Linked DNA regions of Homo sapiens. The gene in region 2 interacts genetically with the main gene of each other region. Each region holds a gene or a part of one and is shown on either strand. Other genes may lie near its edges.

What was found.
Region 1: changes in ZCCHC9 (region 2) and GEMIN2 together harm fitness less than expected from each alone (positive genetic interaction), as found in Homo sapiens cells (one large-scale study listed by BioGRID).
Region 3: changes in ZCCHC9 (region 2) and UTP4 together harm fitness more than expected from each alone (negative genetic interaction), as found in Homo sapiens cells (one large-scale study listed by BioGRID).
Region 4: changes in ZCCHC9 (region 2) and CYB5B together harm fitness more than expected from each alone (negative genetic interaction), as found in Homo sapiens cells (one large-scale study listed by BioGRID).
Region 5: changes in ZCCHC9 (region 2) and DHX37 together harm fitness more than expected from each alone (negative genetic interaction), as found in Homo sapiens cells (one large-scale study listed by BioGRID).

Annotation. Positions count from the first base shown.
Region 1 is NC_000014.9:39,120,228-39,124,950, reverse strand, and holds part of GEMIN2 (gem-associated protein 2), read right to left. Parts: intron 2,522-4,723; coding exon 2,408-2,521; intron 1-2,407. UniProt on the Homo sapiens protein: The SMN complex catalyzes the assembly of small nuclear ribonucleoproteins (snRNPs), the building blocks of the spliceosome, and thereby plays an important role in the splicing of cellular pre-mRNAs.
Region 2 is NC_000005.10:81,304,570-81,308,467, forward strand, and holds part of ZCCHC9 (zinc finger CCHC domain-containing protein 9), read left to right. Parts: intron 1-171; 5' UTR 172-188; coding exon 189-572; intron 573-3,898. UniProt on the Homo sapiens protein: May down-regulate transcription mediated by NF-kappa-B and the serum response element.
Region 3 is NC_000016.10:69,156,184-69,160,906, reverse strand, and holds part of UTP4 (U3 small nucleolar RNA-associated protein 4 homolog), read right to left. Parts: intron 3,824-4,723; coding exon 3,667-3,823; intron 552-3,666; coding exon 445-551; intron 1-444. UniProt on the Homo sapiens protein: Ribosome biogenesis factor. Involved in nucleolar processing of pre-18S ribosomal RNA. Part of the small subunit (SSU) processome, first precursor of the small eukaryotic ribosomal subunit.
Region 4 is NC_000016.10:69,454,911-69,459,633, reverse strand, and holds part of CYB5B (cytochrome b5 type B), read right to left. Parts: intron 542-4,723; coding exon 513-541; intron 1-512. UniProt on the Homo sapiens protein: Cytochrome b5 is a membrane-bound hemoprotein functioning as an electron carrier for several membrane-bound oxygenases.
Region 5 is NC_000012.12:124,950,520-124,955,242, reverse strand, and holds part of DHX37 (probable ATP-dependent RNA helicase DHX37), read left to right. Parts: intron 1-1,031; coding exon 1,032-1,156; intron 1,157-1,246; coding exon 1,247-1,363; intron 1,364-2,272; coding exon of another isoform or gene 2,273-2,292; exon of another isoform or gene 2,293-2,429; intron 2,430-2,672; coding exon 2,673-2,845; intron 2,846-4,438; coding exon 4,439-4,553; coding exon of another isoform or gene 4,554-4,590; intron 4,591-4,692; coding exon 4,693-4,723. UniProt on the Homo sapiens protein: ATP-binding RNA helicase that plays a role in maturation of the small ribosomal subunit in ribosome biogenesis. Required for the release of the U3 snoRNP from pre-ribosomal particles.

The DNA.
Region 1 (4,723 bases), on a different chromosome or scaffold from region 2:
TAAGCTTCATTTTTTTTTTTCAAACTGGTGAATTTCTTGCCACACTGTTGTTTAGAAACAAAGAACAAATAAAAGAAAATTCTTTCATTGTCCATAACAATGAGACATTCCGGAAACTACTATGTTTGTAATGCGGAAGAAAATAACGCCTTAAATTTTGAATATGTAATTTTTTTTTTAGATGGGGTCTCACTCTGTCACCCAGGCTGGAGTGTAGTGGCGCGATCTTGGCTCACTGCAACCTCTGCTTCCTGGGCTCAGGTGATGCTCCCACCTCAGCCTCACGAGTAGCTAGGACCACAGGTGCATGTCAACACGCCCAGCTAATTTTTTTGTATTTTTGGTAGAGATGAGGTTTTGCCATGTTGCCCAGGTTGGTCTGGAACTCCTGAGCTCAAGTGATCTACCTGCCAGAGCCTCCCAAAGTGCTGTGATTACAGGCATGAGCCACCTCACCTGGTCTGAATTTGTAAATTTTTAAATAAAGTATGATTTTAGTAAGTAAAATGTTAAAGACTAAAAATTTTTTACATGATAGTACTTGAAAAAACTAACTTATTAAGTATATCCAATAAAACTGTAACATTGATAAGATGACATTAATATGTTGTATACACCATTTCAAAATCTTCAGCTAAAGCTAATATTTTCAAGAATTAAGGACACTTGAATTAGAATGACATTTTTAAAACCTAATTTGATTCAATTTTTAAAAGTCTACTTTGGAGTCTGAGGCTGTGATTGCTAATTATGAAAATACCACTGATTTGTGAGAAACTTAAGAGGATATACATTAAACGCTTACTTCCTTAAGGGTTTTTTTTAACATGGTGTATTTTACTTGTATGTATTCTCTGAAAATAAGCTAAATAAGTAAGTTTTAATTCTTTATAAATTAAAAACCATTTTTGGCTAGCCATGATAGCTCATGCCTATAATCCCAGCAGGAGGATTGCCTGAGCCCAGGAGTTTCAGGCCAACCTTGCAACATGGTGAAAACTTCTCTCTACAAAAAAATTTTTTTAAAAAATTAAAAAACTTATCGCTACAAAAAATTTAAAAATTAGCTGGGTGTGGTGGTGGGTGCCTGCTGCCCCTGGTATGTTGAAGGCTGACGTGGGAGGATTGCTTGAGCCCAGGAGGTTGAAGCTGTAATGAGCTATGAGTGCACTACTGCACTCCAGCCTGGATGACGGAAGAAGACCCTGTCTCAAAAAAAAAAAAAAAAAAAAAAAAAAAAAATATATATATATATATATATATAGCTATTTTTGAAATGTAGCATATGTTAAGGATATCATCCAAAAGATCAATTGGTTATATAGAAAGAGTACCAAATTAACTTCCCTAAGATTTGAGTCTATTTATACTCCTGTACCACGTCTAAGAGTGCTTGTTTCCCCAGCTCTTGTCAATATGGTGTATCAAACTTTCTTGGCCAATATGTTACCTGAAAAATAGCACCTTGGCATAGTTATGTTATACTTCTATTACAAGTGATTTTTGGCATCTTGTCATATAAGAATAATTTTATTTCCTTTCTGTGAGGTATCTATATCCTTTGGCTATTTTTTCTTGGGCAGGGGAGGGGTGATTCTTGGTCTTTTTATTGATTCTTGGGGCTTTTTACATTTTTAGGAAAAATTAGTTTTAAATGTGAAAAACACAATGTGGCACCATATAGCAAATAATAAATACCTGTTGAACTGAAAAGAACTACATGCTATAGGGAGTAAGCGCTAATGCAGAGGCATGCACTGGATTCTCAAGGAACACCTGCAAACTTGGGGGCAGGTAAATCCTGAAGGACAAGGAGTTGTCTACATAACTTATGATTACAGCCACATGAATTTTAAAGATATCCTCAACATTTCATCTTTAGAATATGTGATTTATTTTTTACAGGCCCATGAAGTGATAGATGTGATTATGCATTTTAAAGCATCTAATTGTGTCGATTTCCATTTTTTCCCTGGCTACTCATAACACTGTTTGCCTGATGCCTCATCATTTAAAAAAACTATGAATCTTATCCAACTCATAAAATGATTACCAAGCCAAACATAAGGGATATGAAGCCAAACTAAAAAAAGTCACAGTAAATTGTTTCAGAAACTAAGCTGTTTTGTTAGGTTGAAGAGCTAATAAACTAAGTCTGGGTTGGCAAACATTTTCTATCAAGAGTCAGACAGCAAATATTTTAGGCTTTGCAGGCCACATAAAGTCTCAGCCACATATTATTTGTTTCTTTTTTACTCTTTCAAAACCTAAAAACAATCCTTAGCTCATGGATATAAAAAAGGCCATGAACTGGACTTGGCCCAGGGTAGAGTTTGCTGACCCCTTATATTAAGTGGTGCACCAAAATTAAAATGCTTTTTGTTCTGTTTATCCACACAGCCCTTACTTGTACATAATCTATTCCAGGACTTTCATTTGTGGCTGGTCCAACAGCCCCGTCAGCACATAACTTTTCACCCAGACAAAATTTCTTCCAGCCTTCTTCATCTTCAGATTTTGGCTAAAAGAAAAAAAAAAAAACTGATTTATTCCTGTGTATTAATTTTTACACTGAACAGTAAAAAAAAAGAAGTTAAGTCCTTCCATATTCCCATTACCGCAACCCAAAGATACGGAGCCAGTTATGGGGAGAATCTCTGCCCCCAAATTTGTATGTTAAAACCTTAAACTCCAGTACCTCAGAATGTGACTGTATTTGGAGACAGGGCCTTTAAAGAAGTGATTAATTTAAATTGAGGCCATTAGGGTGAGCCGTAATCCAATCTTACTAGTGTCCTTATAAGAGGAAATTTGGATTCACAAAGAGACACCAGGGACTCCCACACACAGAGGAAAGACCACGTGAGAAAACAGGGAGAAGGTGGCCCTATGCAAGCCAAGGAGAAAAGCCTCAGAAGAGACCAACCTTAGGCCGGGTGCGGTGGTTCACGCCTGTAATCCCAGCACTTTGGGAGGCCGAGGCAGGCGATCACATGAAGTCAGGAGTTCAAGACCAGCCTGGCCAACATGGCAAAACCCCACCTCTACTAAAAATACAAAAAAAAAAAAAATTAGCCGGATGTGGTGGTGCACACCTGTAATCCCAGCTACCCAGAGGCTGAGGCAGGAGAATCACTCGAGCCTGGGAGGCGGAGGCTGCAGTGAGCAGAGATTGCGTCATTGCACTCTAGCCTGGGCAACAAGAGCGAAACTCTGCCTCAAAAAACAAACAAACAAACAAAAAGAGACCAACCTTGCTGCCACCTTGTTCTTTGACTTTCAGCCTTCAAGACTGAGAAAATAAATACATTTCTGTTGTTTAATCCACCTAGTCTGTTATGGCAGCCCTGACAAACATAGTGCCTAAGTGGCTACACAATATGTGGGACATGTTGTTTTTCCTTATTATTACATTTTTTGAGACAGGGTCTTGCTCTGTCGCCCAAGTTGGAGTGCAGAGGTGTGATTACAGTTCATTGCAGCCTGAATCTCGGGCTCAAATAATTCTGCCACCTCAGCCTCTTGAGTAGCTGGGACTACAGGCATGTGCCACCATGCCTGATAATTTTTAAATTTTTTTTGTAGAGATAGTTGTCTCACTATGTTGCCCAGGCTGGTCTCAAACTCCTGGCCTCAAGCAATTCTTCTGCTTTGGCTTCCCAAAGTGCTGGGATTACAAGTGTGAGCCACTGTGCCCAGCCAAGATGTGTTTAGTTTGGACAAGACTTTAGTGGACACTGACAGACAATGGTGTGTCCAAAAGAGGATGATAAAGACAGAAATAAGTATGGGGGAAAAAATGCACCAAGAACACTTAATAGAATGAAGGATATTTATCCCATGTAAAGAGACATGATTACATATTTCACATATTTGAAGGGTTGTCCAGTCAAAGAAGAAACAGATCTACTCATGCTGCCAGACAGAAAAAGCAGGACGCAGGACTATTTGGGAGAAGCATTCAGCTCAATATAACCTCCTTAACAAAATAACCTTTGTTTGTACATATCACCTTGTATATTACTTTGCATAGGTGCATTTTCCCCCTAGGGATAAGTAGCTTTCATTAAATCCTTAGGATGAATCACCTGAGGTCAGGAGTTCGAGACTAGCCTGGAAATATGGTGAAACCCCGTCTCTACTAAAAATACAAAAATTAGCTGGGTGTGGTGGCAGGCACCTGTAATCCCAGCTACTTGGGAGGCTGAGGCAGGAGAATTGCTTGAATCCAAGAGACAGAGGTTGCAGTGAGCCAAGATTGTGCCACTGCACTCCAGACTGGGCAACAAGAGCAAAACTCCATCTCAAAAAAATAAATAAAATAAAATAAAATAAAATAAAACCTCACGATGAACATGAGACCACTACAAAGTTAAACCCTATTGTCTTGGAATAAGGTTATCTACCTTTTCCTAACACTCTATTAGGTCAGAAGCTGTTTCTGTTTCAGTTAGTACTGAATATCCTGATTATTAAATATAGCACATGCTTAAATTATTGGATCAATTAATAAACAAATGTTTATGTTTTCACACAGTTGCCATCACAGTGTACTTTATTTTTTAAATAATTTAAATAGAGACAGGGTTTTGCCATGTTGCCCAGGCTGGTCTCGAACTCCTGAGCTCAGGTGATCTGCCCACCTCAGCCTCCCAAAGTGCTGGGATTATAGGCATGAGCCACTGTGCCTGGCTCAGAGTGTACTTTAAAACATTTTCATTTT
Region 2 (3,898 bases):
TTATAGCATTAAATATGTATACAGATATCTAACTGAAATAAAAAGTGTTTTAATAATTAAAAGTTTAACATATGGGCATATGTGACATATAGTGATATAGCATGTCTCTTTAGTTTTGTTGTTTTTGTTGTTGATGGCTAACCACCCATGCTTGTCTTAAAAATTGATAAGGTACCACTGATGAAATTATGACCAGGTGGGCCCGAGTTAGTACCACATATAACAAGAGACCCTTGCCTGCAACATCATGGGAGGACATGAAGAAGGGATCCTTTGAGGGAACAAGCCAAAACCTACCAAAGCGTAAACAACTTGAAGCCAATAGGCTATCCCTCAAAAATGATGCACCCCAAGCAAAACATAAAAAGAACAAAAAGAAAAAAGAGTACTTAAATGAAGATGTGAATGGATTCATGGAATACCTAAGACAGAATTCACAGATGGTTCACAATGGGCAAATTATAGCAACAGACAGTGAGGAAGTAAGGGAAGAAATTGCAGTTGCTTTAAAGAAAGACAGTCGACGGGAAGGAAGAAGATTAAAAAGACAAGCGGCAAAGAAAAATGCAATGGTGAGAGCATCACTTCTACCATGTTATTTACTTTATTTAGCTGGAAACTATTCTTATATTCACACACATATATACCTTAGCCAGCTCTGGTTACCATTATGTCCCAGATTTATAGAGCATCGTTTTAAGGACTAGTACTTTTTTAGCACATATATGCTAGGCACATGATGTACTGGTTAATTATTACAACAACACAGCAAAGGTGATGGCATATATTCCCATATTATGGATGGCAAACACTGAAGTGCAGATAGATTAAATAACCTGTGGAAGCCACTTAGCTAGTAGCAGAGGTGACATTCAAACCCAGCCTGACTTCAAAACCTACGTTATAGACCAGATGTGGTGGCCCATGCCCGTGATCCCAGCACTTTAGGAAGCTGAGGCGGGAGGATCACTTGAGCCCAGGAATTAAAGACGAGCCAGGGCCACATAGGGAGACGCCATGTCTACCAAAAAAAAAAAAAAAAATTAGCCAGGTGTGGTGGTACACACCTGTGATCCCAGCTACTACTGCCAGCTGAGGCAGGAGGATTGGGCCTGGGAGGTCGAGGCTACAGTGAACCATGTGATCAACCGCTGCATTTCAGTCTGGGTGACAAAACGAGAGTTCGTCCTCCAAAAAAACCAAAACCTATCCTCACCTTCCAATAGCCCCTTTTTCAAATTAGCATTGAGAAAATGTCAAAATTATGAAGAAGATGAAGTAGAACAGGTTAAATGTGTGTGGGTCCCTATTACTTGGAAAGGATGTTCTTTATCTATGAAATACTGAAGCACAGGAAAGAGATACATAGGAGTCATACTAGTTAGAGCAGAGTAATAGCAGAATTGAAAGTCCTTGAGACTCCCTAGTCATTGCTTCCTCCCTCCCCCATATTACATTCAGAAGAATGCTGGGGGCAGCAGGTTTCTTTCTCTAATGCCTAGCCCTAGATTTTAAAGTATGTCAGGCAAAGGGGATGAAATACTTGGTATAATTATTTCCCTTCTCTAAGTGAGTTTCCCAAGCCTCCTAGTACACCACTTCATAAGAATGAGGACTTGTTGCTAGTTATTATACTTTTATTTTTTATTAGTATTACTATATGTAGAGCACTGTTTGCACCATTGCAGGCTTAAAATGTTAACAGCCTCTATAAATGTGTCTTTTGGCTGTTTGCAAGATTAGTCTATGCATTGTTATATTTAAAGATAGTTATTTAGAGATAATACTGATGAAACATTCCTTATGGATAAATTTGAATAGAAAGGATAACATTTCTGTTGGTATCAGGATAGAGTTTTGTGTAAGTTAACGATTTTTAAATATTTTAAGTCATTTTAGTTTAGTTGACATAGGCGGTATGGTGAATCACATACCATTTGAAAACATTTACTGTTATGACCGCTTAAGAAAAGCATTATGTTTGTAATTAAGTGGGGAAGGATATTGTTTTTTAAAAAGGGGAGTGCTATATAAATAGTATATGGCTTGTTATGACCTGTTGTTAAATTTACTTCCTTGGTATTTTTTTAATACCTTATACTAAGCATCGGTCCTTAAATGCTAATAAAATGATATGCTATAGAAATTTACAATCAGTGCTTCACAATCCCATCTACATTAAACTTAAGGACCATTCAAAAATGTTGTATTAGGTGATGATTAGGTTTTAAAAGAGAAGGCAGTGAACTAAGGCAGTAGTCTCAGCTTAGTAGAGACCACCTTGACTTCACCAAGAAGCCAAGACTTCTTATGGTGGTGATGCAGGTTTTAGCAGTAGCTTTTCCTGCATTTGTATAATAAATACAGCTTCTTTTTTTTGGACCAGCTCATTCTAAATGTACAAGTTACTGAAGAATTTAAAGGGACTCATTCTTTTTCAATATTTTATTAAGTAGGAAAAAAAGGACAGTTGCAAAATAAATGTTTTATTTTGCTGGTTGAATTTGCTTTTTAAAAAAACCTGTGCTTATTTTGAAAAAACATAATTAAATGACTATTTATTATCCAAGAAATATGTATATCTTTTTCCAGTTTAAATAAAATAGTTTAAATATCTGCCATCTTTGATTATGGTTGATGTTCTCATTTATTGCAGCAAAAAAATTCTTCAAATTTCTGTAAACAACTAACCATTGCTCAGTTTTATGTTGGAGCCAAATAATTCATCTTGGAATAAATTATTCCTTTAAAATGTATTGTGCATATATTCTAAAAATGAAACCTATTTCTGAATATTAAAGAATGTGTATGGCTGGGTGTGGTGGCTCATGCCTGTAATCCCAGCACTTTGGGAGGCTGAGGCAGGTGCATCAGGAGATCGAGACCATCCTGGCCAACATGATGAAATCCCATCTCTACTAAAAAATACCAAAATTAGCTGGGCGTGGTGGTGCGTGCTTGTAATCCCAGCTACTTGGGAGGCTGAGGCAGGAGAATCATTTGAACCTGGGAGACGGAGGTTGCAGTGAGCCGAGATCACGCCACTGCACTCCAGCCTGGTGACAGCGAGATTCTGTCTCAAAAAACAAAAAAGTATTTAGGGTAAAAAACAAGGATATACTTTTTGCTATGAAATATATCTTATGGCCAGGCGTGGTGGCTCATGCCTGTAATCCCAGCACTTTGGGAGGCCGAGGCGGGTGGATCACCTGAGGTCAGGAGTTCGAGACCAGCCTGGCCAACATGGTGAAACCCCGTCTCCACTAAAAGTACAAAAATTAGCCAGGTGGTGGTACACACCTGTAATCCCAGCTACTTGGGAGGCTGAGGCAGGAGAATCACTTGAACCCAGGAGGCAAAGTTTTCAGTGAGCTGAGATTGGGCCACTGCACTCCAGCCTGGGTGATGGAGTAAGACTCCGTCTCAAAAAAAAAAAAAAAAAAAAAAAAAAAAATCTATCTATCTATCTATCTATCTATCTATCTATCTTATGGTTTGAATCATAATTTGAATGGAAATGTCTGACCCAAATTCATTCAATTATGTGAACTTTAAAAGAAATATTAATTTTTTAAAATTTTGAGTACATAATTATATACAAATACAAATTTTGAGTGACAGTTTTTATAGCCACTGTCCATTTCCTATAGAAAATGCCATTTTTCTACTGCAGACATTCCAGTTAATAAAATGAATAGTCCATATTTGCTCAATTCATTTAAGCAATTGCCGTCTACAAAGCCACATATATAACATTGTTCCTGAGATTTATGGATTTATTGATTGAGGTTTTCAAAAGCAATGAAACCCTCTGATGGAAAGGATATCTCGTTGTTTAGGAACGTATGAAAGCTTTTTTCTACAAATATTGAGATTTCAGAAAAATAGCTTAATAAGA
Region 3 (4,723 bases), on a different chromosome or scaffold from region 2:
GAAAAAAGTCTGGCCAGGCGCGGTGGCTCATGCCTGTAATCCTAGCACTTTGGGAGGCCGAGGTGGGCGGATTGCCTGAGCTCAGGAGTTCAAGGTCAGCCTGAGCAACACGGTGAAACCCTGTCTCTATTAAAATACAAAAATTAGCCAGGTGTGGAGGCACACACCTGTAATCCCAGCTACTCAGGAGGCTGAGACAGGAGAATCATTTGAACCCGGGAGGCTGAGGTTGCAGTGAGCCGAGATCGCGCCACTGCACTCTAGCCTGGGTGACAGAGTAAGACTTTGTCTCAAAAAAAAAAAAAAAAGAAAAGAAAAGAAAATAAAAAGAAAAAAGTCTAATAAATTTCCAGGTCATGCCAATCTGCCTTGAATCTTGTAACTGCAGGGTGAACTGGCTCCTGTACAATGATTCAAACTGCTGCCATGAAACCCTATGCTCACCTTTAGCTGTTTTACGTTGTAGACATGGACTCCAGCACTGGTACCTGATGCAGCTAGCCAATTCCCATCTGGACTGACTGCCAAAAGACACATGGCCTCCACTGTTCCTGTGAGGACAAAACAGTTACATCTCTGAATTCACACAGTGTCCACAGCCAGACCTGCCCTGGAGATGATGGCAAAAGCCAAGGAGACCATTAGAGTTTTAAATCACTGCCAGGATAATTTGCTGATCACTGTGCAAATTACTTCTAGATGTTAATGTTTCTACTTTTTTCATCTACTTATTTAACCATCCCGCCTGTAAAGAAGGTCCAGAGAGATAAAACAGAAGTTATTACTTCCTCAGGCCTAAGACACTGCTTACTACAGGAATAGAGAATGACGGCAGCATCTGCCACTAAAATATATACTTTAATTGTTTCAAACTCCTTTCCTACCAAATGGTTTTTTTTCTGTTTTTTGTTTTTTTTTTTTTGAGATGGAGTCTAGCTCTGTCACTCGGGCTGGAGTGCAGTGGCGGATCCGCTCACTCCAACCTCCAACTCCCAAATTCAAGTGATTCACCCGCCTCAGCCTCCTGACTAGCTGGGATTACAGGCACCCACCACCATGCCTGGCTAATTTTTGTATTTTTAGTAGAGATGGGGTTTCACCATGTTGGCTGGGCTGGTCTTGAACTCCTGACCTCAGATGATCCGCCCACCTTGGCCTCCCAAAGTGCTGGGATTACAGGCGTGAGCCACCGTGCCTGGCCTCTTTCTTTTTTCTTTTTTTAGACGGAGTCTCACTCTGTTGTCAGGCTGGAGTGCAGTGGTGCAATCTCGGCTCACTGCAACCTCTGCCTCTCGGGTTCAAGCCATTCTCCTGCCTCAGCCTCCCAAGTAGCTGGGACTACAGGCGTGCACCACCACACCCAGCTAATTTTTGTATATTTAGTAGAGATGGGGTTTCACCATTTTGGTCAGCATGGTCTCGATCTCTTGACCTTATGATCTGCCCACCTCGGCCTCCAAAAGTGCTGGGAGGTGTGAGCCACTGTGCCCGGCCCCTAAATTTTTTTTAAGCCAAAATTATGGACAGGCCAGGCGTGGTAGCTCACACCTGTAATCCCAGCACTTTGGGAGGCAGAGGTAGGTGGATTACCTGAGGTCAGGAGTTCAAGACCAGCCTGGCCAAGATGGTGAAACCCCATCTCTACTAAGAGTACAAAAAAAAAATAGCTGGGCGTGGTTGTGGGTGCCTGTAATCCCAGCTACTAGGGAGGCTGAGGCAGGAGAATCACTTGAACCTGGGAGGCAAAGGTTGCAGTGAGCCGAGATGGCACCAATGCACTCCAGCCTGGGCACAAGAAACTCTGTCTTTTGAAATTCTATCTCAAAAATAAATAAATTAATAATAAAAAAAAAAGTTACGGACAAACAGCAAGTTCAATAGACTTGAAGCATATCTTTAATTTATTGGATGCCTGCTGTGTATTTAGCACTAAGGGAGGATGGGCACGTCTGAGCCATCTTTGTCATCTAGAGACTTTAAACCAATCTGGCAACACGACAACTAGTGTGGGATAAAAATTGGACAGTGATGCTCTATGCCAAAATGCGTGCTGCATGTAACGCCCCCAAACGATAACATGGCTTTATAACAAGCATAACCCAGCTGCCAAAGGATGGGTGGGGATGAGGAAAAAAGGATGGGGAACAGTGCAAGCTAAGTGACGAGGAGTAGAATATGCAGGTTTGAGAGCTGTGAAGAAACCATTTTGACTACAAGGGGAAGTGAGATGAGAGAAGTGGAAAAAATAAAGTCATATACATAATGTAGAGTCGAATCTCAAGGAGAGCTAGATATAAGATAAATAGCCTAAGTTTTGTAATAAAAACATATATAGATAATAAATAGTTTGATTTATCTGACCCCTAACTTGTGGGTTTCTTCTCCTGTAGGCTTCTGGATCAGCTTATGAACAGTGAGAGTTGAAGATAAAAGAGTTGACTTTCACTAGGCATGGTGACTCACACCTGTAATCCTAGCACTTTGGGAGGCTGAGGCAGGAGGATTGCTTCAGCCCAGGAGTTTAAGACCAGGATGGGCAACATGGTGAAACCCTGTCTCTACAAAAATACAAAACTTAGCTGGGTGTGGTGGTATGCTCCTGTGTACTTGGGAGGCTGAGGTGGAAGGATTTTCTGAGCCTGGGGAGGGTGAGGCTGCAGTGAGCCATGATCGCACCACTGCACTCCAGCCTCGGCAACAGAGTGAGGCCATCTCAAAAAAAAAAAAAAAAAAAAAAAAAAAAAAGAGTTGACTTTCCAGGCTGATGGGAGTGTAAATGACAGTGAAGCAGCAGCTAAAATCCAGGACAAGGGAGAGGTGAAAGGCCCATAGGAAGTATCAAAACAACTACCAGCTTAATCTGGAAACTGAGTCCAAGTCCTTAACAGTTAGCCATAGCTAGCTACATAGCCACACTCATTCATTAATACTCACATTCTCAATGAAAACAGAAAAATTCTCAGGAACATTATATGAACACAGGTAATTAAACTGTATGTATAAGAATACTTTTGGGCCAGGCACAGTGGCTCATGCCTATAATCTCAGCTGGGAGGGCAGGATGGGAGGATCACTTGACCCCAGGAGTTCAAGACCAACTTTGTCAACATAATGAGACCCCGTCTCTACAAAAAAAATGAAAAAATTAGCTGGGCATAGTGGTGAGTGTCTATAGTCCCAGCTACTCAGGATGCTGAGATGGGAAGATAACTTGAGCCCAAGAGGTCGAGGTGGCAGCCATCTATGATTGTACCTTTTTATGAACAAACAACCAAAAAAGGCAACATGCCCACAAAATACTTATATACAAATACATATTAGAAAATACCAAAATATTAATGGTAGCTATTTCTGGGTGTCAGGATTGCAAATGACTTTAACTTTCTTCTTGTTCTGCTAACAAACTAAGGATGATGAAATTTCTCTGGCCCCAAATAAGGAATCAAAAACCCAGTGAGAAAAGAGTAGGTGTGAAGAACATTGCAGATCTCATCGAGAGTCTTCATCTGCCAGCTATCTCCTCCTACTTGAAACAGCAAACATGTGAGTGAGTGTATCTGCAGGGTAGGAGGAACATGAGGGAACCCCCGACATGGAGGCTTAAAAGCAAAAAAGTTACATCTTAGACACGACAAGTCTCCCCATGGCCAGTTACCAGATTCCCACCTGACTGAGGCTGGAAAGCATGCAGGTGCTTGAAGCTTCCTCCTGACAGCTGAACAATATGCAGAGCTCCTTGATTTGATGCTACAAAGAGCTTTGTTGAATCTTCAGAAAACAAAATCTGAAGGGCAGAGCGAAGGAATGCTGGCATTTTGGAAACCTTTGGGTGAACCAATAATAAAAGCCAGTGAGAGAAGGGAGACCTACAGCCCATCAGAAACAATCACAGCTAGGCTTAAGGTACATTAATGCTTCCTGTCTCTAAGTAAGCCAACTGACTCGGCACAGAACACTGGTTTCTCTCCAGTAATCTATACATCCCCCTTTCATCTCTTTACTAAATATTCACTTCTCTATCAAGGAAATAACTAAGTCGCACGTGAAACCACTAAACAGAAAAGCTTTAATTTTATTGCCTGTAGGGCATTACCCTATCCCTCTAAGAACATACCTCAAAATTTCAAAATGGAAATAAAGGCTGGGTGTGGGCCGGGCGCAGTGTCTCATGCCTGTGATCCCAGCACTTTGGGAGGCTGAGGGGGTGGATCACCTGAGGTCAGGAGTTCAGGACAGCCTGGCCAACGTGGTGAAACCCCATCTCTACTAAAAATACAAAAAGTAGCCAGGCCTGGTGGTGGGCACCTGTAATCCCAGCTACTCGGGAGGCTGAGGCAGGAGAATGGCTTGAACCCGAGAGGCAGAGATTGCGGTGAGCTGAGGTGGTGCCATTGCACTCCAGCCTGGGTGACAAGAGTGAAACTCGGTCAAAAAAAAAAAAAAGGCTGGGTGCGGTGGCTCACGCCTGTAATGCCAGCACCCAGCACTTTGGGAGGCTGAGGCGGGTGAATCACTTGAGGTCAGGAGTTCAGGACCAGCATGGCCAACGGGTGGTGAAACTCCATCTCTACTAAAAATACAAAAATCAGCCAGGTGTGGTGGTGGGTGCTTGTAATCCCAGGTACTCGGGAGACTGAAGCACAGGAATCGCTTGAACCCAAGAGGCGGAGGTTGCAGTGGGCCAAGACTGTGCCATTGCACTACAGCCTGGGTGACAAGAGCA
Region 4 (4,723 bases), on a different chromosome or scaffold from region 2:
AGCTAATACTAATGAATTACTAATATTAATGCCAAGGAATATATTGTAAATAAACCTGAGAAAACCCAAATTCCTAAATATGACCGTAGTATTTTTTTCTCCTGCAATATGTAATAATAGCACTTACCTTACAGAGTGGTTGTGAGAAGTAAATGCGATTAAGTTTTAAGTAGAATCATGTAGCTGGGTTGAACTTCGGGACTAAAGGCTGACCCAATAGTAGCTACCTGTCCATGCATCCTGGCCTCTTACTGAGTGTGATTCCAATTTATGTCACAATAAGATTAAAAAATGACTCAAGGCATGAAACTTTTAGATTATTCAAAATGGCTGAAACTGTAAAAGTTAATTTTTCTAATGTCAAGGAACAACTGAATTTGCAATGATTTGGGCCAAAAAAGAATTAGTTGTCAAACTGCACTCATAAGTTATGTTACATACATATACTTATGGAAGAGTCTCTTGCCAGACATTACCTTGAACGTATGGAAAGCTGTTAAGGAGATACTAACCTTTTGCATGTATCATTTTTTGAAGGGTCCTGAAATAAAAAAAAAAAAAAATTCAAAAATAACAAACAAAAAGAAAGAAGATTAACATAGCACATGTACATTTTCTTGATCAAGCTATGTCAACCCTGTAACTGATACCAGAACTTCATCTTTCATGCATTTTGGTGTTTACAAATATATAAGCAATGGATAGACTGGGAATTTTATTTCTGATAACATACTGGCACTTCACTAGGTTCCTTCCTAGTGAAGAATCACTAATGAAAGCATAGAAATGACCTAAACTTTTTTAGATGTTAAAAAATGTTAATGATACAAACTATATTGAAATGGACTACTCTGTGGTCATGATGATGTACCTGGTTCAGCTGGGCTTGCCACTGGCAATAGCTAACATCACACTTTCTAAAAACATTTTTTAAAGTCCAAAAAGCTCTTCTAACATGTAGATCAACTGTGAAATGCTCTAGATCATACAGATGATTGCTTGTAGATCACAAAAATATACTGGTTCACTCCTTGAAATCATAATAATTATGACAGGAGACCTTAGAATTGATTTCACAATGAAAAGAGAAAAAATGGAGTCAAGGGAAAGAAAATGATAAAATAATCTTAAAAAACAAATCTTGGCAATAAAAAGTACTGAAGTATTGATATATGCTACAAACTTCACAGCATTATCCTAAGTGAAAGAAAGCAGACACAAAAGACTACATATTATATAAATCTGTTTACATAAAATGTTCACAACAGGACAATCAATAGAGTTAGAAGTAGATTAGTAGTGGTTGCCTAGGGCTGGTGTGAGGAGGACGAGTTGTGGGGAAATGGAAAACGACTGCTAATGAATATGGGGTTTCTTCTTGGAGTGAGGAAATTGTTCTAAAATAGACTGCACAGTTCTGTAAATACACTAAAAACCATTGATTTGTACATTTTAAATAGGTAAACTGTATGGTATGTGAATTGTATCACGATAAAGCTGTTATTACAATTTTTTTACTCAATTCAAGTATCAAACGAGTTATTGATTCCATTAACCAGCTGTATAGTACAAAAGGCCTGCTAACTTACTGCCAGAGGACAATAACCCTTTAGCATAGGTTGCTGCTGCCCAAAATACCATCTTTGCAAAATGTAGAAGTATATCAGGGTATGAACATGGAATATTAGCTCTGCTTAACCACCGTTTTCAATAATCTCCAAGAATTTCCAGAAACCAATCACATTGGCCCCAATATACTTTAGAGCAGTCCATGAAATGAGTTTTAATTTCATATATCCAAAACACTGTCATGCAAATGAATACATGCCCCAAACCTGAAAGAAATTAGTCTGTAGGCAAGAAAAATGGCAAACGAAAGGTTTTAAAGAAACCATATTAACATACTTCTATACTTCTTTAAGACTTTAATGATTATCATTATCTGGGACATTTCAACTAGTCTAGTAAGGATCCGATTAATTAAAATGAGTTACAAGTCAATCTTTGAAAAATACAACAAATGTTACTATCTACAGATTCGGAAGGTAGGAGTGGTAGCGATGGTAGTATGTGCATCAAGTTAATTTATAATGCTGCCTTTTAAAATAAATATTCCACTACAGTAACCGAGAAATAATTGAATTCCATCAAGAAAATGTTCATGGTCTTTTATGCTTTAGCTACATAAATACCAATGATTTATAGACAAAAAATGTAGTTACTATTTTTAAAAGGGATAATTTGAAAGGCTTATATGAGAGCATCACAGCATAATATATGTATTATGATGTTTAATCTATAATTAGAGTAAAAATCATATACTTCATATAAATGGATTCTCTAAATTTCAAAGCTTTTAGCCTCTTTTACAATCAAAAGCCCTGGATCTCTGCTAAGTAGGGTGAGCCTTAGAAAAAGGTAATAAGCAACTGAAGAAGAAAGAGAACAAAGACAGCCAAAACCGTACTATGCTGAAATGTAAAAATTTCTAAACAATAAATAACTTAAAACATATGGTGTTCTTTGAACTAAGTACTGCAAAATGTGCCTGTTTTAAGATCAATCCATCCCTGGGGACGCAAAAAAAAGACCAACCTGTCTAACCCATTAAAGGAAAGAGAAGAGAAAGAGGCATACACTCCCTTTAGGATACTGATAGCCAAGTAGATGCAAACCATAGTGACCCCACTTTTAATCAAATACATAATAATCAAAGAGATGTTGAAGGCACAGCTCTTAGCAGCCAGGACTCTCAGCCAAATTTGGAAATAAACCAAATCGCTTGTTTTTAAACTGAAATGAAAAAAGTTCTATTAACACATAACCTCCCTTCACCTCCACCCTTCCCCTAGGCACAGTTCCCCCCAGTCTTCATTTCCACAGCTAAGCACTAGACTAAAGCTAATGGATGCTTAAGTGAAAAGCTTACAGTTTATAGTTGACTTTAATTTATCCCTTCAGGTATTGAGGCATATCTAGCTGGTTATGTCCATGCCCAGATTTTAATGCTCTCAATCTTTGGCCTGGAAAGTAATAATTGCAATACTATGATTTTAGTTACAAGTGGTGAATCAAATCCAAAGTTCTTCCAGCATAACCCCTACCAAGCAATTAATATGCATGCTTCTTTTTCTTCGAAAAGCTTAGAATACACTGGCAAACAACAAAATTGCTGTGAGTTTTGGTATTATAGGTTCTAAAACAAATTGCTGTTAAGTCTACTCTGACTTTAGCTCAAAACTCATGGAAATTAACTGTTTAAATAAAACTGGTTCCTCAAGTTCAAGGTTCATTAAGGCTTTAATTCCCCACTAAAATAAATAAGTAGGGCTGGGCACCTTGGTTCACATCTGGTGAATCCCAACACTGGGAAGGCTGAGGCAGGAGGATCACCTGAGCCCAGGAGTTCAAGGCTATAGTGAGCTAGGATTGTGCCACTGTACTCCAGCCTGGAGGACAGATCAAGACCCTGTCTCAAAAATAAATAAATATATTTATATACATATAAACACAAAAGACGGACTTTTTAGGGAAAAAGGAAATATTTTGTAATACCTGAATAGAATATTTATAAAGCTGCTCAAAATTAAAATTATATCTAATATCTTCAAGCCCAATGTTATAAATCAGTTTCCTCGTTTGTAAAACGAAAAGCTCAGATCAATGTGAATTCTAAAGTCATATTCAATTATCTCAACACAATTTTCTGAGCCAAGGACATTGTGGTGAAACCTAGAGCAGCAGGCTTCTAAAGGGTAGAGAGAAGAAAACACCATTCTCTTATGTCTAGGAAGACTGAAGAAGCACTACCGTAAGTAGATTTTTCTCTCTTCCACCAGCTACATAGAGGAGTAATTTCCCAGATCCTTGTCGCACCATAAGCACTGACCCAATTTGATAAGATTAAGAGAATGACAAAAAGGCCAGTCGCGGTGGCTCATGCCTGTAATCCCAGGCATGAATTACATGAGAGGCCAAGGTGGGCGGATCACGAGGTCAGGAGATCAAGATCATCCTGGCCAACATGGTGAAACCCCATCTCTACTAAAAATACAAAAATTAGCTGGGCATGGCAGTGTGTGCCTGTAATCCCAGCTACTCAGGAGGCTGAGGCAGAAGAATCGCTTGAACCCGGGAGGCAGAGGTTGCAGTGAGCCGAGATCACACCGTTGCACTCCAGCCTGGTGACAAGAGTGAGATTTCGTCCCCCCACCAAAAAAAAAAAAAAAAAAAGAGAACAACAAAGAAATGTCTCAACTGGCAACCACATAGAAAGGATGTGGGGGTCAATGGGTGTGGATTTCACGATGAACTTTGTTTATGAGAAAACATGAGAGAAGAGCACACACTTAAGGAATGGAGTGTACTTTGTCATCAGGACATAAATGTAGGAAAGAATGAACCAGAATCATGATTATGACGCATTACGACAGACAGGGAAGCCGGGTGCAGTGGCTCATGCCTATAATCCCAGCACTTGGGGAGGCCGAGACAGGCGGATCATGAGGTCAGGAGCTCGAGACCATCCTGGCTAACAGGGTGAAACCCCATCTCTACTAAAACTACAAAAAAATTAGCTGGGTGTGGTGGCACACACCTGTAGTCCCAGCTACTTGAGAGGCTGAGGCAGGAGAATCACTTGAACCCAAGAGGCGGAGGTTGCAGTGAACCAAGATCGTGCCACTGCACTCCAGCCTGGGCAACAGAGTGACACTCTGTCTCA
Region 5 (4,723 bases), on a different chromosome or scaffold from region 2:
CATTGGGGGAGGGCAGTAGCTTTATGCCAGTCACCAATTCAAAGAAACACCCAGAAATAAGGCTTAATTAGCTATCTGGGCATCCCTTTGCCCAGTCAAGTGGACACATAATTAACCATTACATGTAAGGTCTTGAAAACCAGGTGTCTTGGCCTCTGCCCAGATCTCCTGGTCCCAGCATCTCTAAGACTCCCACGTGATGCTAGTGTCAAGGCTCTGTAGCGTGGTGACTGAGAGCTCAGGTATGGTTCGAATCTCTCTCTGCCATTCTGAGCTGTGTGACCTTAGGCAAGTGACTGTACCACTCTGAGCTTCATTTTCTCCATCTGGAAAATGGGGATGATGATAATGATAATAATTGGATTGTTGGTAGAATTAAATGAGTTAACACAAGCAAAGTGCTTTGAGCCGTGCCTGACACATATGTTAAGTGTTAGTATTATTTTCAGGTTTGGAAGCCACTGGCATCATTCATTTATTCAGTCCACCCTTGGCAGCTATTTAAGCAGTTTGCAGAGTTTTTTATTACCTAAAAATGGTGCAGTGGCCGGGCACGGTGGCTCATGCCTGTAATCCCAGCACTTTGGGAGGCCGAGACGGGCGGATCACGAAGTCAGGAGATCGAGACCATTCTGGCTAACACGGTGAAACTCTGTCTCTACTAAACAAAAAATGCAAAAACTTAGCCGGGCCTGGTGGTGGGCACCTGTAGTCCCAGCTACTCGGGAGGCTGAGTCAGGAGAATGGTGTGAACCCGGAAGGCGGAACTTGCAGTGAACCGAGATCACACCACACCACTGCACTGGGCGACAGAGCGAGACTCTGTCTCAAAAAAAAGAAAAAAAAAAGAACAACAGTGCAGCGGTGGCTGCCAATGGTGAATTTTGAGCTGGACCTTAATACCTTAATTACATTCATCAGTGACCCCACAAGGCCTCTGAGCCTGTCCCGATGAATAAAGGAGTTCCCCCCGCTGAGGCCCTGAGCGCAGCCGAGGCCCCAGCCCAGACAGTATGTATGTGTGTTTGCAGACCAGCGGCCAGTGACGAGGAGCTCACCAGGCTGAAGAGCAAGCGGGCCCGGGTGGCCCAGATGAAGAGGACCTGGGCAGGGCAGGGGGCTTCTCTGAAGCTCGGCGACCTCATGGTGCTGCTGGGTTTGTGCCCTGCCCGTTGGAGGGTGGCGGGAGGGTCACCCAGGTCTGGGATGGGTCAGAGAGAGAGCATGCCCCCTCTTCGTTCCCCAGGCGCCGTGGGAGCCTGTGAGTATGCCAGCTGCACACCCCAGTTTTGCGAAGCCAACGGGCTGCGGTACAAAGCCATGATGGAGATCCGGCGCCTGCGGGGCCAGCTGACCACCGCAGGTACGGCCCCGTGCCGGCACGCCGCTGCACCCGGCGGGCAACCTGACCTGGGCACTTGAAATGTTTAAAAAAGTGATCCATAGAGTCCACGTTTGCAAACTTGCTACGCACCAAAATGTATTTATAACCCTAAATCAATACTTGGGGAGCTTTTCCAGGAACAAGGGAATGTGCACATGAGCAGGGCACTAACAGATTCGAGCTGCCAGCCTGCACCCTCCCCCACCAGGTCGTCGCTCGGTTTCACCTTTTCCCTGGCGATACCCCCTGCCATTTTCCATCACCGCTGTGGCCTGGACCCCTCTTCCCTCCCACATGTCCCCCAGACCCTTCTCATGCAGAAGGATGAGGCCTTGCCCTGGACTCTACCTCAGCTCAGCAGCACAAATACTTCCTGCCACCAACACCCAGGGAAGCTTGAGAGGAAGGAAATGTCCTCCAACATATGGCAAGAGGACGATGCGTAGAGAGGGCAGCGTGGACACTGGGTCTCTTCTGGGCAGGCCACGTTCTTGCACCCAAGGCTAGTGGAGAATTTGCCTTCCATTTAAGCAGATCCCAAGGTTTGATGCCAGAATTGATGGCTCTCTTCCGGCCGATCCTTCTCCCAGCGCCAGGTGCATGGTGGTGGCCCTGTCACCATGCTCTGTGTCCTTCTGGCTGTGGCTTTCCAGAGCAGCCCCATTCCAGGTGCAGCAGCTTAGAATTGCAGTCAGCCTCCAGACAGTGCTGGTTACAGTGGCTTGGTGACATTAGACCTTTATTGTTGCAAGGAAGAGAAGTCACTTGAGTCAGCAGCCCAGGGCGTTTCTCTGCTGCCATCCTCCTGCCATTCGCTGTGCCTTCCATCCTAAGGTCACCTCTTGGGCTGAGGAGGTAGTTGGAGGCTTAGTCACCTCTGCCTTCCAGGCAAGAGAAGGGAAGGATGAGGCCAGGGCACCCGCCGGCTGTCCTGTTCCCGTATTGAACGTTCCCAGGAATTCCAGCCGCAACTTCCTTCTTCACATCATGGACCAGAACTGAGTCTGAGGCCACCTGGGTGTTAGGGGAGGGCTGTCTCCTCGAAGAATGCTCTGCTGCCCAGGCAGGATGTGGGGCTTTGTCCCAAGGGAGAAGGAGGGAATGGGGGGGCGGCTGCAATCCTGCCTGCTGGGGGCTTTGGGTCCTGCTGGTGGCCTCTGGGGAGGGGTTGAGACAAGCAGGTGGCTGAGGCTAGAGCACTGAGCATGGTTGGGACTTTCTAGGAGGTCAGGGCAGAGCTGGCTCCGGGCCTTGCCACCACCGACCTCACTCTTGGTTCTCCCCTCAGTCAATGCCGTGTGCCCCGAGGCTGAGCTCTTCGTGGATCCCAAGATGCAGCCGCCCACCGAGAGCCAGGTGACCTACCTGCGACAGATCGTGACGGCAGGCCTGGGGGACCACTTGGCCCGCAGGGTCCAGAGCGAGGAGATGCTGGAGGACAAGTGGAGGAACGCCTACAAGGTGCGGCCCCCACCGCCTCCCTGCCCGGGTAGCTTGGGGCACCTGGTGAGGGGCAGGCGGGCTGGGCCCTCAGGGTCTGGGGAGGCTTGTTCCCTCTCAGCTGTGGGTCCCCACTGAGGAACAAGTGGGGCTTGCAGTAGAATCACATCTTCCTTGGTTAGTTTCTCCCAACTTTTTTTTTTTAATAACAGTTTAGTGGAGATAAAATTCACACAGCATTTAAACTCTTTTGGGGTTTTTTGTGTTTTCTAGAAACAAGGTCTCGCTCTGTTGCCCAGGATAGAGTGCAGTGGCACAATCATAGCTCACTGCAGCCTCGAATTCCCAGGCACAAATAACCTTCTCGCCACAGCCTCCTGAGTAGTTGGGACTGCAGGGGGCACACCACCACCTCCGACTAATTTTGTTGTTGTTGTTTTCTTTTTTGAGACAGAGCCTCACTCTGTTGCCCAGATTAGAGTATAGTGGTGCGAACTCAGCTCACTGCAACCTCCACCTCCTGGGTTCCAGCAATTTTCCTGCCTCAGCCTCCCAAATAGCTAGGATTACAGGTGTGTGCCACCATGCCCAGCTAATTTTTGTATTTTTAGTAGAGAAGGGGTTTCACCATTTTGGCCAGGCTGGTCTTGAACTCCTGGCCTCAAGTGATCTGCCCACCTCGGCCTCCCAAAACGCTGGGCTTACAAGCAGTGTTACCCAGGCTAGTCTTGAACTCCTGGCCTCTAGGAATCCTTCCACCTTGGCCTCCCAAAGTGTTAGGATGACAAGTGTGACCCACTGCATCTGGCCTGCATTTAAACCCATTTAAAGTGTTCAATTCAGTGGGTTTTAGTATTTTCACAGAGTTTTGCAACCATTATCATAGTTAACTTTAGAACATTTTTATTACCCAACAAAGAAACCCCACATATGTAAGCTGTGAGTCCCCAGTTCCCCGTCACCCCCGTTTTCATGATCCTGCTTTCCATCTGTGGATCTGCCTGTTCTGGACATTTGGCATGAGTGGAATCTTAACATACATGGCTTTTCATGTCTGGCCTCTTGCACTTAGTGTGATGCTTTCAAGCCCCATCCACGCCATGGCAGGTGTCGGTGCTTCCTTTTTTTTTTTTTTTTGAGAAGGAGTTTTGCTCTTATTGCCCAAGCCGGAGTGCAATGGCGTGATCTCAGCTCACTGCAACCTCCACCTCCCGGGTTCAAGCAATTCTCCTGCCTCAGCCTCCCAAGTAGCTGGGATTACAGGTGTGTGCCACCATGCCCAGTTAATTTTTTGTATTTTTAGTAGAAATGGGGTTTCACCAACATGGTGAAACCAGCCAGGCTGGTCTCGAACTCTTGACCTCAGATGATCCACCCTCCTCGGCCTCCCAGAGTGTTGGGATTACAGGCGTGAGCCATTGCACCCGGCACTTCCTTCCTTTTCACGGCTGGATCAGACTCCAGCGTGTGGATGGGCCGCATTTCCCGGCAGATGGAGCACTCTCCCACTTTTGCGGCTGGAGTGGATAATCAGATTCTTCTCCTGGGTTGAAAGTATGCGGAGCCCCTGGGCATGGGTTCTTCCCTGACCACATCACTCTCCATTCTCTGCAGACCCCTCTCCTCGACGACCCTGTCTTCATCCACCCCAGCTCCGTCCTTTTCAAAGAGCTCCCCGAGTTTGTGGTCTACCAGGAAATCGTGGAGACCACTAAGATGTACATGAAAGGTGCCGAGGCCTGCGGACAGCCCCTTGTCCCCCGATGGTGACGCTAATGGGGGTGTGGCTGGGACCCTGGGGCAGAGGCATGGCAGCCCCTCCCACGGAGGGTGCCGCTGTAACCCCAGCTTCCTCCCCCGGCCCCCAGGCGTCTCTAGCGTGGAGGTCCAGTGGATCCC